Regions from separate parts of the Homo sapiens genome. Here all the other regions are linked to region 1. Evidence: fine-mapped expression QTL. A gene starts in region 1. Each other region holds a variant in brackets. All regions are shown on one strand. Distances are between the middles of the regions. Region 1 holds the start of ISL2 (ISL LIM homeobox 2). Region 2 overlaps SCAPER (S-phase cyclin A associated protein in the ER). Region 3 overlaps SCAPER (S-phase cyclin A associated protein in the ER).

Region 1 (8,183 bases):
GCATGCGAGGTCCGCGGGCTGGCAGGGAGGGGTCCCCCTCACGTCTCCACGGGACTCGGCACCATACTGTTGGGGGTGTCCGGGAGCTGCGAGGACAGGGAGGTCACGTCGCTGCCGGAGGAGTTGCCTAGGGAGCCGGACTCGGAGAAGGAGACCTGGGGCGGCGGAAACACCGGGAAGAGGCAGGTGAAGAGGCACGCGAGCTGGTGCTCCAGGGCCGCGTGCTCCGAGTCGGAAAGTGTCCCTTGGGGACCGGCCGCCAGCTGAGAGCAAGCCCTGCGGAGAAGGAGGCCAGGTCCCCAGGCGCACGAGGGGGGGATTAGGGCGGGGGAGCGGGTTGGTTAATCCTGCGACCTCTCTTGTGAGCACTTTAATCCAGGGAGACCTGGTTTAGGGCGCGTAATGGGCCGAGGTGAGGTTTCAGAGCCCGCCACTGTTCCCCCTCCCCCACCGCCTAGGGCTGTACCCAGCCCCTCAGCCCAAGGCCACCCCCTCCCCTCTCTGCCAGGCTAAGTGGCTAAATCCCCAACCCGCAGAGTCCCGAGGTCGGGGCGGGTAGGGCAGGGCCTCACCAGCTGTTGGAAGGCGGGTTGGTCCAGGTCGCTCTGGAGGGCAAACTCGCTGAGCGCCTTCCACGGCGGCTGGTACGTCTGCACCTCCACTGCGCTGCCCTGCACGGCGTTCTCATGGCGGATGGGACTGCCCGCCACCAGGGGCGTCCCAGTCAGTCCCTGAAGGCTCTGCGGGGCAAGCAGAAGGCAGTAGGTGCTCGAGTTAGGTCTGGCCTTTTCTGCCACCTTTGAGACTGGAGCTCCAGGCCTTGAGTGATTTAGGGTCTGCATTGCTTTGCGGGGAGGCGCACACTCGATCGCATCGGAAGAGCCCTCTTTCTCCACTGGGGATCTGCGGGGGCCGCAAACTTGCCACGATAGGTCAGCCTCGGTGCTGGAAGCCAACCGCCCGGTGAGGAAAGGCAAGACCTGCACTCCCACCTTTCTGCAGCTGCCGACGGAGTGCACAACCCACCAGCCCGACTGGCGGGCGCTGCACACTGCCATGCAGCCTTGGGCTCCGCGCAGCGCCCGGAACCCGCAACGCGGGGCTGCCACTGGGACAAGGAGAAACCCCGATCCCAGACAAAATAGGAAGCCTCAAATCCAAGGGAAGCCTTGCTGTGAAGGTACAGACATACACCATCTGGAGCGCCCAGTTCTCCCTGGATCTCCCAGGGCTCGCCCAGAAAAGGGCACGCAGATACCGCGGCGGAAGCGCAGCCCCCACCCGACTCGAGCCTCCGGCCCAGCGGCTGCTCACCGTCTTGTCGCTGTGCTGCTGCTGCTGCAGCTGCTTCATGAGAATGGATTTCTTCTTGTCCTTGCAGCGCTTGTTCTGGAACCAGACGCGGATGACCCGCGGGCTCAGGCCGGTCATCTCCACCAGCTGCTCCTTCATGAGAGCGTCGGGCCGCGGGTTGGCGGCGTAGCAGGTCCGCAGAGTGTGCAGCTGCTTCTCGTTCAGCACAGTCCGCACGCGGGTCGTCTTCTCCGTCTGCTTGTGCACGTGCGGGCGCAACGCGGGCTGCCGGCCCGACCCAGCGTCTGCCAGGACAGGGTGAGGCCAGAGGTTAGCGAGGGGCCGCCACCCACCCGCCCCGAGCCCAACCTCCGGGTGGCCCAGCCCCCCGGGGCCCGATTTCGTTTCTGTTTTATTCTGTTTGTTTCGTTTAATTGTTCGTCTTCCTCTCCATCTGTTCGCCTTACTCGGAGAGAGCTGTGCATTTTCGTTCTTTCTCTCGCTCCCGGGCCGGACTGCCCCGCAGCGATCTCTCCCGAGCTCAAGCAGGGCGCGGGAGCTCGGCGACAGGCCGCTGCGGGGAGGGAGTGGCTGCTCAGGGATGTGCCTCCTCCAGTCGCAGGACCCTCGGAACGAGCGAAGCCCTCCGGAAGAAGTCGGAGTTTCAGAGGAAGAGGAAAGAGGCTTGCCCAGGACTCTGGAGAGGGAAAGGGACCGACGTGGACCCAGGGCGAGGCGCTGCCCAGGGGACTGGGTGGGAGGTGCGAATATGCCGGGGGCCTACGAGGGCCCTTCCCCTCCTTCAGAGCCCATTTGGACAGGGCCAGGCCACATGTGTAGAAGACTCATCCACGGTTATGGACGGGCCTCCAGGGCTTGCAACAGTTCCTTCCTGCCCGCCCTTGGGCTTCGGCCCCTGTCTCCTTCCTCAAGGCTCCAGGTTCCCCAGCCCAGTGGCCTCCCACCGACCAAGGTGCTGAGCAGCCGCTGGCACTCTCCTCGCTTGGCCCCAGGTTCTCTCCATCCCGGGGAAACAGTGACTGATTCCAGAGCCTGCACCCTGAAGCCCGAAACAAACAAAGGGGAGCCTCTCCGAGATCCCAGATGGGGGTGCACTGAATACCCGCTTGCTCCCATTTCACATCTCCATTTGATCCCGACCCATATATACCGTGGATCTGTACTGCACCATTTCGGTTTATGTTCCCCTCTACGAATTTCTAGGTCTGGACAAATATTTACAAATAGCCCATCCAGCCCAGTTTCCTCTTTCTATAGGGAGGAAGTGAAGATCCAGAGAGGGGAGGAGCGGGGCAAGGCCACACAGCACCCAGAGGCCCAGCCTGGTCTACGGATCTGTGCTGCAGGCCTATGGCTACCTGGGGGAAACTGCCTTGCCTGGGGTGGAGGCACCTCTGTTTCTGTTCAGCCGTACCTGCCCATTATACACTCAGACCCCATCTCTGGGCAGCTGCTGATTAGGACCCAGAATATTCCAGTGACAGTCCACTATGCATTGATACTCCCCCTCCCCCAGAAGAACCTGGCTAAATTGTTCATCAAACTGGGCCTCAAAACAAGATGGCAAAAACCCCTCTTTGTTGGGTTCTTGGCTCCTGGCTGACCAAGCTCCTGCCCAGCTCCCAGTTTGGAGCTGTGTTACTTACACACATACCCCTGGGCAAACCTTACCCTCTGACAATAACACATATTCCTCCAAGAAATTCCTAATACAAGCCCCAAGACGGACACCACTTAAGATTCCCTGTTGTCATCCACTCTTCTGCTCCTAGCACTGTGCCCTGCATGTTCCTGGTCATGGAGAACACGATTCTGCACAATTCTCCGTGCTCACACACTCATACACACGCAGTTTCTCCCGAGCACACGAGAATACACACAGCCTTGTTCCCAGCACACAGTTCCGCACTGATACAGAAAAACACTATCCCGGCAGACGGAACCACACACAACTGACAACTTCTCGTTAGGGACACAAGCGTACCCCTACACACACGCACGCACATACACCCCGCTCACCCCGGCACAGGCCCCGGCGCGCTTACCGGGCAGATGCAGGCCGCGGGCGCCGGGAAGCGGGCCGGGGCTGCGCGGGCTGCCGGCCGCGGCGCGCTCGAGCAGGAGGCCGTGGTCGGCGCGGCAGAGCAGCTCGTGCTCCCGCAGCGAGAACTCGTCCCCAGGCAGCAGCTGGCGGCTGCACACGGAGCAGCGGAAGCACTCGATGTGGTACACGCTGTCCCGCGCCCTCATCACCAGGTCGCTGCTGCTGAAGCCCACCTGGCACTTGGCGCACTTGATGCCGAACAGCCTGCGGGCCCAAGGTGCGGCGGTGTCAGCGCTGGGCCTGCGGCCGCCCTCATCTCCCTGGCTGCTACGGCTCCGGCGCGCGCCCAGGACACTTTGTGGCCACCAGGAGACTGCGGTGACCCGCCTGCGGGCATTCCCGGGCCCGGGGGAGCGCTGCGGCACCCGTGCGGGATGCGGATGGCCTTCTCCCTGGGCAGGGCCGGGGCGCGCGGGCAGGCCGCCATCCCCAGTCCCGGCCCCGGCCCCTGCGCGCGGTGGCCCAGCCCGCGTTCCCGCCGGCCTCACCTGACATAGTCCCGCTTGCAGTAGGTCTTCCCGTCTCTCACGAAGCACGTGCACGTCTCGTCCAGGTACTGGCTGCACTCGGCACACTTGAGGCAGGCCGCGTGCCACTCGAGGTCGGGCGACACCCGCAGGATAAACTGGTCGTGGATCTGACTCCCGCAGCCCACGCACATGGCCGTCCCGGGCTTCTCTGCCGGGGAAGGGCGCGGGGCCGCGTCAGGCCTGACTGCCCGGACCCAGGCCGGCCTCGGCTACTCCAGCCCCAACCCAACCCGCTCGCTCTCTTGCTCTTTCTTTCAAGACTTGCGACCATAAGGAAAGATGATGAGCTCTCTAAAGGTCCAGGGCATTGGAAACGAAAAACCAGTATCTTGTGGATTGCTGAAGGTTTCTTCTGTCCCCCACCCCAAATATTTCGTTATTACATTCATTAATGACAGTCGTTTTGTCGACGTGTCTTGAAACTAAACGCAAACACGAAACTAAGAAGAGAGTAAATACACAGGCACTGCGGACGCCTGGATATCAACACCTAACGGTGCTGTCCTGGCATTTCCGCTCACACACTCCCACTCACAGCGGCTGCCTCCTATCCCAACACAGACACATCGTCTTTCGGCAGTCCCCGCTCATCCTCTCAGACATTTCTTAGTTTAAATATCCCAGAGCAAGCGAAAGAAAGCTTCCTAGCTTTGAAAAACCGAAAGGCAAACAAACAACAACCAAAAAAAAAAAAACCCACATCCCTAAATCAAACCTAATTGCCTTTGCGCAAAACAGAAGCAGATTTCGCAGCCCGAAGTCATCCTAGCCGGCTTGAGAAATAGTGTTTACTTATAAAATAAAACAACAGGATTCCCAAAGATAAGCAGTCCTGCAGGAGACATGCATTCGTTTTTCCTCTCCTAAACTATTCTGACAAATAGAAGCCACTTGTAGAATCCACTAAACATTTTTCTGCATTAGAAATTTTGCATATTAAGCATACACACACACCCCACCCCACACACACACAGAAATACTTACTCTTGGAATGATCACCCATAGCACCCAGAAAAGGATAATGAAAAATAATATCCACCATGCAGAAAAAGAGATGTGCGCAAAGTGTGCGGCCAGGGGCAGAAGGACGAGGGTCGCGCGCCCGGCCTCGGCTCTTTGCTAACTAACTCCTACTGCCCCGCGGAGTTGAAGGAGCGATTCCGCACCGGCCCGCACGCAGCATGACGTCAACACGCACTAGCCCCGGGCCGGAGCTGGGGGCGGGACCTGTGGCGTCACGAAGCTTCCCCAGAACTGCCGGGGATGCGGGGGAGGTGATGGGGATCCAGGGGCTGATGGGCGGGGTGGGTTGGGTTGGAGGCTGGGGGTGAAGGGAGATTGGCTGGGAGGAAGTGGGCCAACCCTGATTGGCCCGGAGTGAACAATGGAGTGCAGCCCCCCCACCTCCGAAACCTACAAGGATCCTCTCTCATGCCCCGGGCCTGGCAATCTGGACTGGACCTTGCGTCACCGCCGAGCTGGCTCCGCGGCCGTTACAACTCTGAGCTTCCTCTTGGACTTTCGGGGCGGTTTTCCCAGGCGCGCTGGAGCTGGGTGATGGATACCTGAGGGTGGAGATGGCTCTCCTTTAAGAGCTCCCTTCTTATATAAATTAAAAAAAAAAAAATTAAACCCACTCTCAGGACGAGAGAGCCGAGGACAAGGGGGATCCGTTTGGACGTGACCGTCATCGTCCAGCTGGTCACCTTTCTCCTCTCATGTGCCTTTGTTCTTCGGGTCCAAGCTAGAGAGAGTGTAGAGAATGACCACCTGGGTTCTGATAAACTCTATTTAGACTTTCCTATCCACACACACGTAGAAAACTTTAGATTGGGGCATTACGTGGGTTGAGCCAGAACCCAGATCCAAAAGCGCTCACCCGGGACTGGGACGGGTCCTGACTCCATCCTTGCTGCTGCTGCCGCTGCTGCTGCCCCTCCTCCCTCTCCTCCACCACCACCTCCTCCTCCTGCTCCACTTCCTTTTTTTTGTTGTTTTGTTTTGCTTTTAATTTGTTGCTGTTGTTGTTTTAAATGTAACATGGACTTCCCCGCCCCCTCATTTTTCCCCCATCCAAATGGCATAGCTCCTTTTAGGAACACTGCTGGGGTCGATTGCGTGTCCAACTTCCAAAATAAAAGATTTTTCTAAACTCTTGTCCTTCATTAACAAACCCACTGCAATGCAAATAATCAGAAACGAACGTAAGGCGCTGGGTAATTTACAGTGGTATCTGCGAGGCGGCGGCTCGTTGGTCCTGAGAAAATCTGAGAGCTCTGAGCACAGTCCAGGCATTCTTTCAAAGAAATCGCTGTGGGTTTTGTTTGAAAGGGTTCAAAGACCGGCCCATGAATTATAAATAACATTTATCCAACCATGGTGTCTGTTCTTGTTTTCCCATTAAAAGGAGTACCAAGAACTTGGTGTGCGCCTGGGTGGGGCGCGAGGTGAAACGCCTGCGGATAAAGTGTCTCCACCGCCATTCCAGACCCTGCCCAGACCTTCGGGCTTGTGGGCCTGAGGGCGCGGTCGCTACTGCCGTTCTACTAAGAGCATGAGGTTGGTTGGCGTCGAAACGGATGCAGCCGAGGGCGCAGGCCGAGGCTTTGCAGAAGGCTAGGGCGAGGCCCCGAGTGCACGCTAACATTATTCGACCATGGTCCACGGTGAACGTTCCTCACCGGCCCCGCGCTGGGGCGAGCGCTTTAAGCCTCGTCCAGTAGCGTCCGGCTTTTGAGCTCCGCCTCCACCTTTAGGAGGTCTAGTCTTCTCACCGGTCCGGCTTTTTTTTTTTTTTTTTTTTTTTTTTTTTTGAGATAGACTCTTGCTGTGCCGCCCAGGCTGGAGTGTAATGGTGCGATCTCGGCTCACTGCAACCTCCGCCTCCCGGGTTCAAGCGATTCTCCTGCCTCAGCCTCCTGAGTAGCTGAGATTGCAGGCGAGCGCCACCACGCCCCGCTAATTTTTGTATTTTTAGTAGAAACCGGGTTTCACCATGTTTGTCAGGCTGGTCTCGAACTCCTGACCTCGTGATCCGCCCACCTCGGCTTCCCACAGTGCTGGGATTACAGGCGTGAGCCACCGCGCCGGGCCACCGGACCGGCTCTTGTTACAGTTTACCACCCGTTGGCCAATAGGCCATTTCTTGCGTCTTTAGTCAACAGTCCCCCAAAGAGCGCTCACCCTGAGTGTGTGCGGGCAGGTCAGGGGTTGGGGGATGCTGCGTTTGAATGAATGTGTTTATGTAAATGGGGGACAAGAGCGAGGGGGTGGGTATCTGTGCCTGAGGCTGTGCCAGGACACCTGTGTGACCTCAGGCATCTTATTTTAATTCTCCTTCCCTCAGTTTCCTCATCTGTAAAATGGGGGTATAATAATTGTAGCTATCTCTATTACATAATAATTAAATAAACTGTTCTCTGGAAAGGGCTTAGAGCAATACCTAGCACAGAGTAAGTGCTCCATATGTGTTAATTATGACAGTTATGACTGTGGCTGTATCTTTATGTTGGGAGCCTCTGCCCACCCTGCCTGCGTGTGTCTGGATGGGGAGGGGAGGTCTAAGTATGTCTCAGTATGTGTCATCTGATGATTTCTTTGTGATTTCGATGTGTGCTTGCTGTGTGTGTGTCTGCTGTGTAGATGGGGTTTGGAGATGTGTGGTCTGTGCATAGACTTTGTGTACAGGTTATATCTGTGAATGTGGGTGCACAGTCAGAACTGGGAGGGGACTCGGTGTGTGTGTCTGCATGTGGAGTGAGGAGGTGCGTCTGGCCCAATGGCCCTACCCTTAGGTGACCCTGGACTAGGCCTGGCTCCCAGCACCTACTAGCTCTTGCTCGCCAGGCCAGGAGCAAGCACATCTATAATTCAGGGGTTCAGACAGCTGGCCAGGAGGGGGCAGCCCCAGGCTGGAATCGTAGTCCCAGCTTTTAACCGTCTCCTGCCCAGAGAAACTCTTCCTTCCCGTCCAGAAAAACCTGTCCTTTGAAACTTCACTAGGGAGGTGGGGATTGGAGAGGGTCACCCCTCCTGGGATGCTAGGAAGCCAGGTCAAAACAAATATTTGTTCAGGGCCACCATGTGCAAAGTCCTTGTTGTTAGCCTATTAGGTCTTAAAAGTAATGCCATGTGGTGAGTAGTATTGGGCCCCTCCAATCCTCGAGGAAACTGAGGCTCAGAGAGGGGAAGTTACTGCCTCAGGTCACAGGTTAAATCATTGCTGGCATTGAACC
Region 2 (8,183 bases), 480 kb before region 1:
GTTTTTTTCTTGTAAATTTGTTTGGGTTCATTGTAGATTCTGGATATTAGCTCTTTGTCAGATGAGTAGCTTGCAAAAATTTTCTCCCATTTTGTAGGTTGCCTGTTCACTCTGATGGTGGTTTCTTTTGCTGTGCAAAAGCCTTCCTCTCTCAACTGGTCAAAGTCATTCTCCGTCCAGCTTTGTTCTGTGCTGGTGAGGAGCTGCGTTCCTTTGGAGGAGGAGAGGCGCTCTGATTTTTAGAGTTTCCGGTTTTTCTACTCTGTTTTTTCCCTATCTTTGTGGTTTATCTACCTTTGGTCTTTGATGATGATGACGTACAGATGGGTTTTTGATGTGGATGTCCTTTCTGTTTGTTAGTTTTCCTTCTAACATTCAGGACCCTCAGCTGCAGGTCTGTTGGAGTTTGCTGGAGGTCCATTCCAGACCCTGTTTGCCTGGGTATCAGCAGCAGTGGCTGCAGAACAGAGGATATTGGTGAACTGCAAATGCTGCTGCCTGATCGTTCCTCTGGAAGTTTTGTCTCAGAGGAGTACCCAGCCATGTGAGGTGTCAGTCTGCCCCTACTGGGGGGTGGCTCCCAGTTAGGCTACTTGGGGATCAGGGACCCACTTGAGGAGGCAGTCTGCCTGTTCTCAGATCTCAAGCTGCATGCTGGGAGAACCACTACTGTCTTCAAAGCTGTCAGAGAGGGACATTAAAGTCTGCAGAGGCTACTGCTGCTTTTTGTTTGTCTGTGCCCTGCCCCCAGATGTGGAGCCCACAGAGGCAGGCAGGCCTCCTTGAGCAGTGGTGGGCTCCACCCAGTTCGAGCTTCCTGGCCGCTTTGTTTACCTACTCAAGTCTTGGCAATGGTGGGTGCTCCTCCCCCTGCCTCGCTGCCGCCTTGCAGTTTGATCTCCGACTGCTGTGCTAGCAATGAGGGAGGCTCCGTGGGCGTAGGACCCTCCGAGCCATGTGCGGGATATAATCTCCTGGTGTGCCGTTTGTTAAGCCTGTTGGAAAAGCACAGTATTAGCGTGGGATGACCCGATTTTCCAGGTGCCGTCTGTCACCCCTTTCTTTGACTAGGAAAGGGAATTCCCTGACCCCTTGGGCTTCCCTGGTGAGGCAATGCCTTGCCCTGCTTTGGCTCACGCACGGTGCGCTGCACCCACTGTCCTGCACCCACTGTCTGGCACTCCCCAGTGAGATGAACCTGGTACCTCAGTTGGAAATGCAGAAATCACCCATCTTCTGCGTCGCTCACGCTGGGAGCTGTAGACTGGAGCTGTTCCTATTTGGCCATCTTGGCTCCACCCCCCTTATTGTTGAGTTTTAAGAGTTTTTTGTATGTTTTGGATAACAGTGTCTCTTGTATGTCTTTTGCAAATATTTTCTCCCTGTCTGTGGCTTGTCTTATTCTCTCAATATTGTTTTTTGCAGAGCAGAAGTTTTTGATTTTAATGAGGTCCAGCTTATCAATTTTTTCATTCATGGACTGTGCCTTTGGTGTTGTATCTAACAATTCATTGTTGCATCCAAGACCATCTAGGTTTTTTCCCTGCAAGTTATACTTTAGGAGTTGTATAGTTTTGTATTTTACAGTTGGGTCTAGGATCCAATTTGAGTTAATTTTTGTGAAGATTATAAGTTCTGTGTCTAGATTCATTAGTTTTTGCATGTGATGTCCCATTTATTCTAGCATCATGTGTTGAAAAACAATCTTTGTTCCCTTGTATTGGCTTTGTACGTTAGTCAAAGATCAGTTGATTATATTTATGTGGGTCTGTTTCTGAGCTCTTTGTTCTGTTCCATTGACCTGTTGGTCTTTTATCCTAGTACCACCCTGTCTTGATTACTATAGCTTTTTAGTATTTCTTGACATTGGGTAGTGTTAGTCCACCAGCTTTGTTCTTCAAAATTGTATTGGCTCTACTGAGTCTTTTGCTTCTGCTGTAAACTTTAGAATCAGCTTAACTTGCTGGGATTTTGATTGAGATTGCATTGAATTTATAAATCAGGTTTGAAAGAACTGATTGACATTTTGACAATATTGAGTCATCCTATCCATGGATTATCTTTCCATTTACTTAGTTTTCTAATTTTTTTTATCAGAGTTTTGTTGTTTTCCTAATATAGATCTTATACATATTTTGTTAGTTTTATACCTAAGTATTTCATATTTTGGGGTGTTAATGTAAATGGTATTCTGTTTATTTACATATATATTTGTTATATATATTTGAGATTTATAACATGTTTTGACATACATATATGTAGTGAAATGATTACTGCAGTCTAGCAAATGAACCTATCACCTCACATAGTTACCTTTTTGTGTGTGTGGTAAGAGTAACAAAACTACTCTTTTAGTGAATTTTTAGTATACAATACGTTATCATTAACTAGTGCCCTCATGCTGTATATTAGATTTGTAGACCTGTTCATCCTACGTAATTAGAAGTTTGTATCCTTTAATCTACATCTCCCTATTTCCTTCCTCCCCCTGACCTTGTTAACCAACCACTGATTGTCCCTTTCTTTCTACGTATTCGACTTTGTTTAGATTATATATATATAAATGAGATCATACACTATTTTTCTTTGTAGGTCTGGCTTATTTCACATAGCACAATGTCCTTGAGGTTTATTCATATTGTTGCAAATGTCAGGATCTCCTTTTTAAAGGTGGAATAATATTTCATTGTACAGTCATGTGCTGCATAACAGTGTTTCAATCAACAGCTGACCTACAATGGTGGTTCATAAGATTATAATGGACCAGAAAGATTCTTGTCACCTAGTGATGTCATAGCTGTCATAATGTTGTAGCACAATATATTACTCAGTGTTTGTGATGATGCTGATAGAAACAAGCCTATGGTGCTACCAGTTGCATGGAAGTATAGTGCATACAGTTGTGTACAGTACACAGTACTTGATGATGATGATAATAAATTATGTTACTGGCAGCCAGGCACGGTGGCTCACGCCTGTAATCCCAGCACTTTGGGAGGCCAAGGCGGGTGGATCACAAGGTCAGGAGATCGAGACCATCCTGGCTAACACCGTCTGTACTAAAAATACAAAAATACAAAAAAAATTAGCTGGGCATTGTGGCGGGCGCCTGTAGTCCCAGCTACTCGGGAGGCTGAGGCAGGAGACTGGTGTGAACCTGGGAGGTGGAGCTTGCAGTGAGCCGAGATAGCGCCACTGCACTCCAGCCTGGGCAACAGAGCGAGACTCCATCTCAAAAAAAAAAAAAAAATTATGTTACTGGCTTATGTATTTTTATACTATTTATTGTTATTTTAGAATGTATTCCTTCTGCTTAACAAAAAGAAAGCTAACTGTAAAACAGCCTTTGGCAGGTCCTTAGGTGGTATTCCAGGATAAAGCATTGTCATCAGGAGATGATAGCTCCCATACATGTTATTTTCTTGCTCTTGAAGACCTTGCAGTGGGACAATATGTGGAGGTGGAAGATCCTGATCCTGGGTAGGCCTAGGCTAATGTGTGTGTTCGTGTCTTCATTTTTAACAAAAGTTAAAAAGGAAAAAAAATGTTAGATAGGAAAAAGCTTATAGAATGAGGTTATAAAGATAATTTTGTACAATTGTACAATGTGTTTGTGTTTTAAGCTAAGTGTTACTACAAATGTCAGAGTTTAAAAAATACTAAAAGGTTTATAAAGTAAAAAGATTGTAGTAAGCTAAGGTTAATTTATTAGGAAGACAGAAAATTTTTGTATGGATTTTGTGTAGTCTAAATATGTAGTTTATAAAGTCTCAGCAGCATACACTAATGTCCTAGGCCTTCACTTACCATTCTCTCCTTTACTCCCTCCCTCACCCTCCCTTACCCAGAGCAACTTTCAGTCCTGTAAACTCCATTCATGGTAAATGCTACAGGTTTATCATTTTAAAAATATTTTGCAACGTATTTTTACTGTAGATTTTCTGTGTTTAGATGCACAGATACTTAACATTGTGTTACTCTTGGCCTGTAGTATTCAGTATAGTAACATGCTATACAGCAGTAGTCCTCAACCTTTTTGGCACCAGGGACTGTTTTTGTGGAAGACAATGTTTCAACGGACTGGGGTCGGTGTGGCAGGGGTAGTTTCAGGATGAAACTGTTCCACCTCAGATGATCAGGCATTAGACTGTCCTAAGGAGCACTCAACCTAGATCCTTCACATGTGCCGCTCACAATAGGGTTTGTGCTCCTATGAGAATCTAATGCTGCTCCTGATCTGACAGGAGGTGGAGCTCAGGTGGTAATGTTTACTGGCCCACTGCTCACCTCCTGTTGTGCGGGTCAGGTTCCTGCCATACAGGTTTGTAGCCTAGGAGCAATAGGCCATGCCATATAACGTAGGTGTGTAGTAGGCTGTACCATCCAGGTTTTTGTAAGTACACTCTGATGGTCGCACAATGATGAAATTGCCTAACAATGCATTTCTCAGTATATCTCTGTTGTTAAGTGATGCTTGACTGTATGTATGTGTGTGTATATATACACCACAATTTCTTTACCCATTTATCCATTGATGGACACTTAAGGTTGTTTCCATATCTTGGCTATTGTGAATAATGCTGCAAATAAACATAGGAGTGCAGATGTCTCCATGAGGTGCTGATTTCATTTTCTTTGGCTATCTACTCAGAAGAGGGATTTTTGGGTCATATGGTAGTTGTATTTTTAATTTTTTGAGAAACTTTCATACTGTTTTCCATAATGGTTATACCAGTTTACATTTCCACAAATAGTGTACAAGGGTTTTCTTCACACCCTGGCCAACAGTTGTTATTATCTCTTATCTTTTTGATAATAGCTCTTCTAACAGATGTGAGG[T/A]GATTTTTTTTTTGTTTTAATTTGCATTTCCATGATGATTACTGATGTTGAGCACTTTTTCTTATGCTTATTAGCCATTTTTATGTTTTCTTTGGAAAAAAACTTCTTCAGATTCTTTGCCCATTTTTAAATCTGTTATTTGTTTCCTGTTATTGAATTGTGTGAGTTCCTTATATAGTTTGGATATTAACCCCTTATCATATACAGAGTTTCCAAATATTTTTCTCAGTCTGTAGCCTGCTTTTTCATTCTGTTAAATGTCTTCTTTTTATTTGTAGGAAAGTTTTTATTTTGATGTAGTCTCACTTGGATATTTTCGCTTTTGTTGCATGAATTTTTGGTGTGATACCAAAAAAATTATTGCTTGAGGTCACTATTAAGGAACTTTTCCTTTTGTTTTCTTCTAGAAGTTTTATAGTTTCAGGTCTCATGTTTACATCTTTAATGCATTTTGAGTTTATTTTTGCGTATGGTGTAAGATAAGGGTCTAGTTCCTTCTTTTACATGTGGTTATTCAGTTTTCCCAACACTATTGAAGAGTTTATCCTTTTCTCATTGTGTTTTTTTGGTGGTCTTGTTGAAAATTAGTTGACCACATATGCTTGAGTTTATTTCTGGGCTTTCTGTTACATTTCGTTGTTCTGTTGGTCTTCATGTCTGTCTGTATGCCTGTCATTACAGTTTAGATTACTGTTGATTTGTAGTGTAATCTACAGTCAGGAAATGTGATGCCTCCAATTTAATTTTTCTCTCTCCACATTGTTTTGGCTATTTAAAGTTTTTTGTAGTTCCATACAAATTTTAGCATTGTTTTTTCTATTTCTGTGAAAAATGCCAGTACAATTTGGTAGTGATTGCATTGAGCATGTCACTTTGGATAGTATGAATTTTTTTTTTTGAGATGGAGTCTCGCTTTGACGCCCAGGCTGGAGCGCGGTGGCGTAATCTCGGCTCACAGCAGCCTCTGCCTCCCGGGTTCAAACAATTCTTCTGCCTCAGCCTCCCGGGTATGTGGGATTATAGGCACCTGCCACCATGCCCAGCTAATTTTTGTAATTTTAGTAGAGACGGGGTTTCACCATGTTGGCCAGGCGGATCTCGAACCCCTGACCTCAAGTAATCTGCCCACCTTGGCCTCCCAAAGTGCTAGGATTACGGGTGTGAGCGACTGCACCCAGCCTGTATGAATGTTTTAACAGTATTAATTTTTACAACCCATAAACATGGAATAGCTTTCTGTTTATTTGCATCTGCTTCAGTTTCTTTAATCAATGTTTTATAGTTTTCAGTGTACAGATCTTGCACTTCCTTGGTTATATTATATTTATTCCTAAGTATTTGATTCTTTTGGTGCTATTATAAATAGGATTTTGAAAATTTCTTTTTAACATAGATTGTTATTGATGCAAAGAAGTTCAACAGATTTTTTGAATGTTGATTTTTGTATCCTGCTACTTTTCATTTAGAAGTTCTGACCTTTTTTTGTGTGTATGTGACACCTGTAGCATTTTCCTGCATATAGAATCAATTCAAATGCAACCATGGATAATTTTACTTCATTATTTCTGATTTGAATGCCTTTTGTTTCTTTCTCTTTTTTTTTTGGTCCGATTGCTCTTGCTAGTACTTTCAGTACTACATTGACTAGAAGTGGCCAGAGTGGGCATCCTTGCCTGGTACTAGATCTTAGATGAAAAGTGTTATTATGTTGATATTGATCACTGTTGATTATGATGTTAGCTGTTCGTTTTTCATACATGACTTCTACTATATTGAGGAAATTTCCTTCTATACCTATTTTGTTGAGTTGTTTTTTTTTTTTTTTTTTTTTTTTTTTTAGTGAAAGGATATTGAACTCTGTCTGCCAGATGCTTTTTCTGTGTCTGTTGAGATGATTATATGCTTTCTTGCCTATCATTGTGCTAATGTGTTGTATCTCATTGATTGATTTGCATGTATTGAACCATCCTTGCAGCTCAGGGATTCATCTCACTTGGTTATGGTATATTATCTTTTTGATGTATTGTTGAATTTGGTTCCCTAGTATTGAGCATTTTTGTGTGTATATTCATCATTTTTTGTGTTATCTTTTTCTGACTTTGATATCAGGATGAAATTGATCTCATGTATGAAATTGAAACTCTTCCCTTTACTATTTTTTTTTTTCTGGAAGTATTTAAGAAGGATTTATACTAATTTTTTTGAATGTTTGGTAGAATTCGGCTCTGAAGATATCTGGTTTTGGACTTTTCTTCATTGGGAAGTTTTTGATACTATTTCAGTCATTTTGTTACTGGCATGTTTAGGCTTTCTGTTTCTTCTTAATTCAGCTTTGGCATGTTGTATGTTTCTAGGAACATACTGTTTCCTTAGGTTATATATGTATTGGTATATAATTGTTCATAATCAACTTTTATGATCTTTTATATTTTCAAGGCGTCTGTTGTATTGTCCCTCTTTATGTTTCCGATGAGTCATCTCTTTTTTTCACCCTAAGGTTTTGCCATTTTAAAAAATACAACCAACTCTTTGTTTTATTGATGTCTGTCTTTCTTTCTTTCTTTCTTTTTTTTTTTTTTTTTCAGAGTCTCACTCCGTCACCCAGGCTGGAGTGCAGTTGCATAGTCGTGGCTCACTGCACCCTCTGCCTCCCAGGTTCAAGTGATTTTTGTGCTCAGCCTCCCAAATAGCTGGAATTACAGGCGCATGCCACCATGTCCAGCTAATTTTTGTTTTTTGTTTTTTTTTTCTTGAGACGGAGTCTCGCTTTGTCACCCAGGCTGGGGTGCAGTGGCACAATCTTGGCTCACTGCAACTTCTGCCTCCCAGATTCAAATGATTCGCCCACCTCAGCCTCCTGAGTAGCTGGGATTACAGGTACCTGCCACCACACCTGGCTAAGTTTTGTGTTTTTAATAGAGACAGGGTTTCACCATACTGGTCAGGTTGGTCTCGAACTCCTGACCTCAAGTGATCTGCCTGCCTCGGCCTCCCAAAGTGTTAGGATTACAGGAATGAGCCACCATGCCCGGCTATTGATGTTTTTCTATATTTGATTTATTTCTATTGTTATCTTTATTATTTTCTTCCTTCTGCTAACTTTGGGTTTAGTTTGTTTTTTTCCTAGTTTCTTGAGTTGTAAAGTTAGGTTGTTTATTTGAGATATTTCTTCTTCAATATAGGTATTTATAGCTACAAGCCTCCTTTTTACTTTTTTGTTTTGTTTTGTTTTCCCTTTTTTATTTTATTTTTTTTATTTTTTTATTTTTTATTTTTTGAGGCAGAGTTTCACTCTTGTTGCCCAGGCTGGAGTGCAATGGCGTGATCTCAGCTCACCGCAACCT
Region 3 (8,183 bases), 110 kb before region 1:
CCTCCCTTCACTCTTCTTTCCCCCTTTCCCTAAATATGCAGTCAATTAGATTATTCTCCATTTCCCATCATCTTTCATTTCTAAGTAATATAATAGCCTCCTTCCCTGCTGTTAATTGTAACCCTTCCCATAGCAGCCTACATATTGTGATGAGTCATTTTTCAAAAAATGAAAACTTTTCATGTCACTTCTAGCTTAGAATCCTTCATTGTCTTACCCCTTATGCTCAGAATTGAGAGCTAAACCCCTCAGTATAGCAGGGCCTGTGTGATCTGACAGTCTCATACACCACTAGTCCAACTATCTCCAGCAACCTGCAGCTTCCTGAACACACATACTCTCTTCTGTCTTCTTTCATGCTGTTTCCTCATGTGTCCTCTTCACTACCCAACATCACCACCATCCCAGCAGGCTAAGTTTTTCCTCTTTCTGTGAGACTCAGCTCAGGGGTTACCTTCCCCAGGCACTGCACTTTGCACCTGTCCTCATAAGACCATGAGTTTACTTATCACCTGGAATTCGAATTACATTTTACTTACCTGTGAACTCTGGGAGGCAAGACCATGTTTTTCCTCTTCACCTGTTGAGTTTATCACAGAGTCGAGGACATAGTATTCAAAAAATGTTCAATGAATGAAAGCAATTGTTGTAAGCTAATGTGTTTTGTAGTTCAGATAATAATATTATTTCAGAGATAGGTGTCTAAGAATATAGGAATAACAAACTCAGTTTCAGCTATACTTTCACAACACAAAATGAGTTTGTGACCTCAGATGTTTAGGGGTCTTCCGACACACACACCAAGCCAAGTAGTCCTTCAGCAGCAAACACCTGCTGGGAGCCTCTACTTCAATTCAATTCTGACTACTTGAAGGTAGCATCATACCCACAGGTTTAGAGCTCAGTCCCACAAGACTGTCCACCACTTCAGATGCCAATCAGAAGTCTCAGGTTGTTTTACCTGTGCTTCTGACCAAATGACTATAAATCAGAGTTCCCCATGACCCTTTCCTTGGGTTTGATGAATTTGCTAGAGTGGCTTACAGAACTCAAGGAAACACTTACATTTACCAGTTTATCACAAAGGATGTTACAAAGGATACAGATGAAGAGATTTATAGGATGAGGAAAAGAAGCATGGATTACCCTCTCCAGGTGCACCACCCTCCAAGAACCTCCATGTGTTTCATGCTCCTGAAGCTCTTCAAACCCTATCCTATTGGGTTTTTATGGAAGCTTCATTCCATAGGCATGATCAATTAAATCATTAGCCATTGGTGATCAGCTTAACCTTCAGCCCTTAATACACCAGACCTAACAAACATCATGGCTTAGCGTAGTCCACCTTAAATGTGCTCAAAACACTGACATTAGCTTATAGTTGGGCAGAATTAGCTAAAACAGAGTCTGTTGTACAATGAAGTGTTGAACGTCTCATGTAATTTATTGAATCATGTACTGAAAGTGAAACAGGGAATGGATGTATAGGTACTCGAAGTATGGTTTCTATTGAACGCGTATCTCTTTCACACCATGATAAAGTCAAAAAATCATAAGTTGAACCATGGCAAGTTGGGGACTGTCTGTATATATTTCACAGTATTATGAGATTATGGATGACATACATTTCCTTTTTCATATGAATTTGTCTACTTCAGGATATGCACATAACTGCCTCTTTAAACTGTAGGGGGTTCTCCAGAATGTTAATCTCCATCCTATAAAGTGGATAGCAAAGCTTAGTGATTATCCATAACACATCTGTCCTTATAAGTTTCTATTGAGCTTGCCTGAAGAGATTAAAGGAAATTTCAGTTCCCTATATGTGCAAAAACAACCTATGAGAAAATAATAGATACTTGTATTTCACTAAAGCTCTACCTCTAAAACTTCCCCAGGTTCTTGTGCAGCTTTTGCTATGAAACATGTCTTTTGGGCAGCTATTGCAATGAGAAACAATGTTTAAATGATTCATTAGCACCAGTTGAAGCCTGGATTTTCATTTATCTAATCATGATCACTTGTTGCAGTGCCCTGGAAATAGTAATAAAACTTCCATCACGCTTGTTTAGTGCTTTATAATTTTTGAGCACTTTCACGTGTCACCTTGATTAATTTTCAGTATTGTATACTACAATAGTTAAAGACTCAGGCTCAGAAGTGAGACAGCCTGGATTGAAATCCTGACCCTGATGTGATTTAACCTCTCTGAACCCTAGTTTTCTTGTCTGAATATAGGAATAACAATATTTATGATTTGTGAGAGTGTTGTGTCGATTAAGTGAAATGATCCAGATGAGCTGTTATCATGGAACCTCACATTAAGTGCCCACTAAATGTTAGCTGCTATTACTATTATCACTACTGCCCCTTCTACCACTATTTCTACAAGAAAATTCCCTGTGCAGTAAGAGTGGATATTACCTCTGGAAGAATCAGAGGTCTTAAGAAAGGGTTAAGCACTCATGCAACGCCCCTCTCGCCATCCCTTGGTGGTGTTAGAGAAGGCTGAGTGGGAAATCGAGATTTTAATCCTCATCCAGCAGTAATGATGCACCTCCACCCGGGGTGCATGGAGACTGTATTGGAAGCCTGATTTTTTACCCCTACTGAGAGATAGTGAGATTCTCCTTCCCCAGTCACCAGGATGGTGCCAGAAGGGGCCAAGTGAGATGCCAGGACTCACCAGCTTCCTGTGGTAACAAGCCCTATCCCATCCCCTCATGTGGAAACCCCTCCTGTGGAAACCAAGTAACATGCCATCTCCAGGTGGTGATATCAGTAACATGCCATCTCCAGGTGGCTAACTCAGAAGCCTGAATTCCTGCCCTCACCTGATAATGAGGCAGCCTTCACCCCCAGCTGACAGTAATGAGGTGACACTCCCTGCCCCCCATCAGAACAGTGTCAGAGGAGGTCTTCTAAAACAAGATTTCAATAAGATACAGTCTTATCATACACAAAGTTTCCAGAATATAATTTAAAAATCACTCATCATAGAAAGAACCAGGAAAATCTCAACCTGAATGAGAAAAGACAACAGATGTTACAATTCTTACATGGATTTTAAAGCAGCCACCATAAAAATGCTTCAACATGCAATTACAAATATGCTTAAAGCAAATGAAAAAGTAGTCTCGGCAAAGAAATAGAAGATATATTTTCTCACTTACAAGTGGAAACTAAGCTATGGGTATGCAAAGGCATACAGAGTGGTATAATGAACAATGGAGACTCAGGAGGAGAAAAGGTGAGAATAGGGTAAAGGATGAAATGGGTACAGTGTACACTATTCGGGTGACAGGTGCACAAAAATCCCAGACTTCACCACTATACAGTTCATCCATGTGACCAGAAACCACTTTGATCCCTAAAGCTATTGAAATAAAATAGAAGATATAAAGAATAACCAAGTGAAATGCTATAATTGAAAACTATAATAATCCAAAATTTTAAAAGTCAATGAATGTGCTCCAATGACTGAATGGGGAGAAAGGATGAAAGAATCAATGAATTTGAAGTTAGAATGATCAAAATTACCCAATCTGAAGAACAACAGAGAAAACAGACCAAAATGTTTTAAGTGACCAGAACCTAAGGACTGATGGAGCCATAACAAGAAATCTAACATTCATGTCACCAGACTCATGGGATCTAACATTCATGTCATCAGATTCATGGAAGTAGAAAAAAGACAGGGATGAAAAAGTATTTGAAGAAATAGTAGCTGAAATGGTCCCAAATTTGGCAAAAGATGTAAATGTGTGGGTTCAAGAAGCAGAGCAGACCACAAACAGAATAAACAAAAGGTAAATTGTTGGACTTAAGCCCTAACACATAGGTAATTAGATTAAACATAAATGGTTCTGAAATAACAAAATTTTATTTAAAAATGGGAAAGATTAGTTTACAGCAGTGAGGAGAGAGGGAAAACTTGTGGAAAAACTGAATTACATAATGAACATAAAAAATGTGAACTTTATTTTTTTAACTTAAGTTCCATCAAGTTCAAGACACTTTTATAAGTGGTACTACCAGCCACCTAATTCATCCCTAAAAAACTAAGGGTCCTGGGAATTTAACCATGTCA[G/A]TGCAATCTTTTTTACATTATTAACTGAAGAAAAATGGGGCCCTTTACAGATTTTTTAAGATTAGGAAACAAGAAGTCAGAAGGAGACAAATCAGGACTGAAAGGTGGATGCCCAATGATTTCCCATCAAAACTCTTGAAAAGTTGCCTACATTTGATGAGAATAAGCAGGAGTATTGCTGTGGTGGAAAAGGACCCTCTGGTGAAGCTTTCCCAGGTGTTACTCTGCTCATGCTCTGGCTAACCTTCTCAAAACGCACTCATAATGAGCAGATGTTATCATTCTTTCACCCTCCAGAAAGTCAAAAAGCAAAATGCCTTGAGCATCCCAAAATGTTGCCATGATCTTTGCTCTTGACTGGTCCGCATTTGCTTTGACTGGGCTATTTCCACCTCTTGGTAGCCATTGCTTTGATTGTGCTTTGTCTTCAGAATCATACTGGTAAAGCCATGTCCTATTGCAGTTCTTCCAAGAAGTGCTTCAGGATCTTAATCCCCCTTGTTTAAAATTTCCATTGAAAGCTGTGCTCTTGTCTGCAGCTGAGCTGGACACAATGGTTTCGGCACTCATCAAGTGGAAAGTTTGCACAACTTTAATTTTTCAGTCAGAATTGTATAAGCTACCAGTTGAGAAGTCTGTGGTGTTAGCTGTTGTTTCTGCTATTAATCATCAGTCACCTTCAATTAGAGCACAAAATGAATTCTTTCCTTGTAAATTGATGTAGATGGTCTGCTGGTGCAGGCTTCATCTTCAACATCATGTTGTCCCTTCTTAAAACAAGTTATCCATTTGTAAACTGCTGATTTCCTTGGGCCATTGTCCCCATAAACTTTTTGTAAAACACCAGTGATTTCACAATTCTTCCACCCAAGCTTCACCATAAATTTGATGTTTGTTCTTGCTTCAATGTTAGCAGAATTCGTCTTGCTCTTAAAGGGGATCTTTTCAAATGGATGTCTTATCTTTCTTTGTGCTTCCAACTAGAGCCTCTTCAGACATGTTATAACAAGTTGGTGTAAGTTTATTTTGGTGCAAAAATAATTGAAATCCATGCATAGTTTTTTCAAAATACACATTTTTCACAAACATTTTGAAGACCTCTTATATTAAGGAGCCCCTGCACTGTTTGGGAGGATGAACTAGATAATCAACTTTAGGCTTTCCAACTCTGGGAGTCTCTGATTTTCTCCATTCATCAAGGTCCACCATCTATCATTATTTTTAGAAGGTGATTCCCTCAGTGGTGGTGTTTTTTACCCCAACTTTCGCTGTTTATCTGTCTTCTCATTTGCATCAATACACATGCCCCCACCACCTTTTTCACTGGTTTTTTAAATTATTTCCTGGTTTTTGCCTGTATTCCAGATAGATGAGATTACTTGAATAACTTCATACTCATAAATAAAGACCTACAGAATCTGAGACTTAAAAGAGGTCTCAGAGATTGAGTCCATCCTTATACTAGGAAAGATATAATGGTGTTAGGGTATATCACCTAACATGGAGTCAGATGTTTTGAATTTGAGAAGCTGCTACATTATTTGCTGACTTCAAGATCTTGTGTAAGTTGCTTAACCTTTCTGAGCCTCTGTTTTCTCATTTGCATAATAGGCATAATAATAGATATACTGGAGGGTAGCTATAAACATTTAATGGATAAATATGTATAAGGGGACCTAGCTTGCCATCTTACAGTGGACTCTCAGTAAATATTAATTAAAGCTGAATGTCCTCATTTTATACATAAGGAACTGGATACTCACAAGTCATGCTGGTAGCAGCAGGTGAGATAGAATGAGAGAGACTCAGGCCTCCCAGGACAGTGCTCCCAACACACCAAAGTTGCTATGTAAATGCCTCTAAAACCTACCCATTCTTTCATTGGACAAATATTTAGGCACTGGAACTACAGAGACAAATTGTAACTCACAGTTTAGTAGGACAAACCAGTAAGAGACATTTAAAATGTAGTATAATGAGTGCTGCAGTAAAGCACAGCATGTACAAGGTGTTTGGGAATTACAGTGAGGCACATAACTTATTTTGGGGGGTGGGGAAAAGAAAAGATGTACCTCATAGACTACAGTAACTGAAGCAGGAGTAAGAGGTGAACACGTAGGATATTGCATAGAGAAGGATTTTGCGTGCAAAATTCCTTTCTTCCTTTAATTCACTTTACACCTTTGCCCAGGATGACTAAATACTATATATATCTATATCTATATATACATGTATATATAGATAGATAGATAGATATTTAATGCTGGTTTTCTCTTTAACTTGGACCTTCTAAATATCCCAATTATTGGTTTGGTGAATTTTTTTTAGTGAAAATCAGTGTCTACATGCATTTAAAAAATATTTAGTGAACATCTACTACATGTCTGATGTTGTGTAGGCACTGGGATTGTAGCAGTGATCAAGACAAAGTCTCGCTCTCGTGGAGCTTATATTCTGAGAGAGAGAGGAAATAATGTACAGTATGTCAGGAGGTAACTATTGCACTGGAAGAAAAATAAAGTTGAGTAAGCAAGAAAGGGAAGATAGGTTTGGGGAGAGAAATATTACTTTAAATAAGACACTCTGGCATAACTTATGGATAAGATGACATTTGAATAGAGACCTAGAAGAAGTGGAGAAATTAGTCATGAGGTTACCTGGGGGAAAGATATTCCAGGCAGAGGAAATACCAGAATGCGAGCAAGAGACAGACTGACTTAGTATATTAATTTGGGGAGGAATGGATGTAGAGGATAGATCAGAAGGGCTTCCTTGGGCATCATGAGGTTTGGAGCTTTTAGTTTGCAGGAAATGAGATACCAGGGAATGTGTTGAGCAGAGGAAGTATATGATTCAACATGTATAACGAAGACTTTTGTAAGCATCATGACCACTAAGGCATACACTATAAAGTTTGCTGACATTTTATCTTGTTAGGATTTTGGCTGCATAAATATAGGCTCAAAGGCATAAATATGTTAGAAAGGGTAATGATATTTAGGATTAATTGCAGTGTCTTCTTTAATATTGTCATAACATTGTTTGTGGCATAAAAAGAAGGAGAATAGGCTGGGCACGGTGGCTCACACCTGTAATCCCAGCACTTTGGGAGGCCAAGGCGGGTGGATCACGAGGTCAGGAGATCGAGACCATCCTGGCTAACATGGTGAAACCCCGTCTCTACTAAAAATACAAAAAATTAGCCGGGCGTGGTGGCGGGTGCCTGTAGTCCCAGCTACTCAGGAGGCTGAGGTGGGAGAATGGCGTGAACCTGGGAGGCGGAGCTTGCAGTGAGCCAAGATCGTGCCACTGCACCCCAGCCTGGGCGACAGAGCCAGACTCCGTCCCCAAAAAAAAAAAAAAAAAAAACAAAAAAAAAACCAGAAGGGGAATAATTTTAAAAGATAATAGTGAGGAACTACTAGCCACTTCTATGTGATTTCCTTTTATATTTTCAAGCCATGTAAATTGTTGAGGTAAATACCTTTCATCAGTTCTATTTTTATGCATAATATAACATGGGCATACACGTTTTATAAATATCAGTGGCAAAAAGACTGTTGCATGTTTAGTGACTGTTTCGTATAGGAAATGAGGCCAACAATATAAGAACTTGTGTCTGCTGCTGGAGCCCTTCCACGTTTTTTGCCTTTTTTTTCTGTACTCTGACACTGTCTTGACAGTTTTCTAAACAATCTCTTATTGATTCTCAGTGAACCTAATTCATATTCTGAGCATTCTGTATACACTGTACAGCTTGAAAATATGTAAACCTATCTTCAGAATACTAAAAAATAGTTGTACAGAATTACCAGTAATTACTAATTTTATTTTCTCTCTCATGGAATCACATTACAGAACAATAGATTTCTATTACTAATAAAAGCATCTTTCTGTATTGCAAACAAGAATGTTGAAAGTATTTGAAACCACTTTGGCAATGGGAAAAAAGAATACATGCTTGGCTTTTAAAAGTTATAATGACTTTTAATTTAACTTCGCTGAAAACATTTTGATTCAGGGCTTGGTCCTATAAACATTGGGTTTCATTTTGGAATAAGTTTAGAGAATCGGCACCAGTATCTATTCCAGC

Evidence for each region.
Region 2: its variant is fine-mapped to the expression of ISL2 in whole blood (INTERVAL, PIP 0.93).
Region 3: its variant is fine-mapped to the expression of ISL2 in whole blood (INTERVAL, PIP above 0.99).

The regions. Positions count from the first base shown.
Region 1 is chr15:76,333,691-76,341,873 of GRCh38, reverse strand. ISL2 (ISL LIM homeobox 2) reads right to left here and starts at 5,101. Exons shown (of 6, transcript NM_145805.3): 1 at 4,933-5,101; 2 at 3,907-4,096; 3 at 3,360-3,622; 4 at 1,315-1,598; 5 at 573-740; 6 at 1-155. The coding sequence starts at 4,990. The coding sequence ends at 39. RefSeq lists enhancers at 981-1,736, 1,934-2,143, 2,164-2,233, 3,781-4,592, 5,018-5,067 and 2 more.
Region 2 is chr15:76,811,722-76,819,904 of GRCh38, reverse strand. All of the region lies in intron 5 of SCAPER (S-phase cyclin A associated protein in the ER), which reads left to right. Among named protein-coding and RNA genes, the nearest start is that of SCAPER, 90 kb to the left of the region's middle. The variant T/A (reference allele first, on the strand shown) is at 4,840.
Region 3 is chr15:76,440,195-76,448,377 of GRCh38, reverse strand. The region is part of intron 25 of SCAPER (S-phase cyclin A associated protein in the ER); the gene reads left to right. Among named protein-coding and RNA genes, the nearest start is that of ISL2, 110 kb to the right of the region's middle. The variant G/A (reference allele first, on the strand shown) is at 4,091.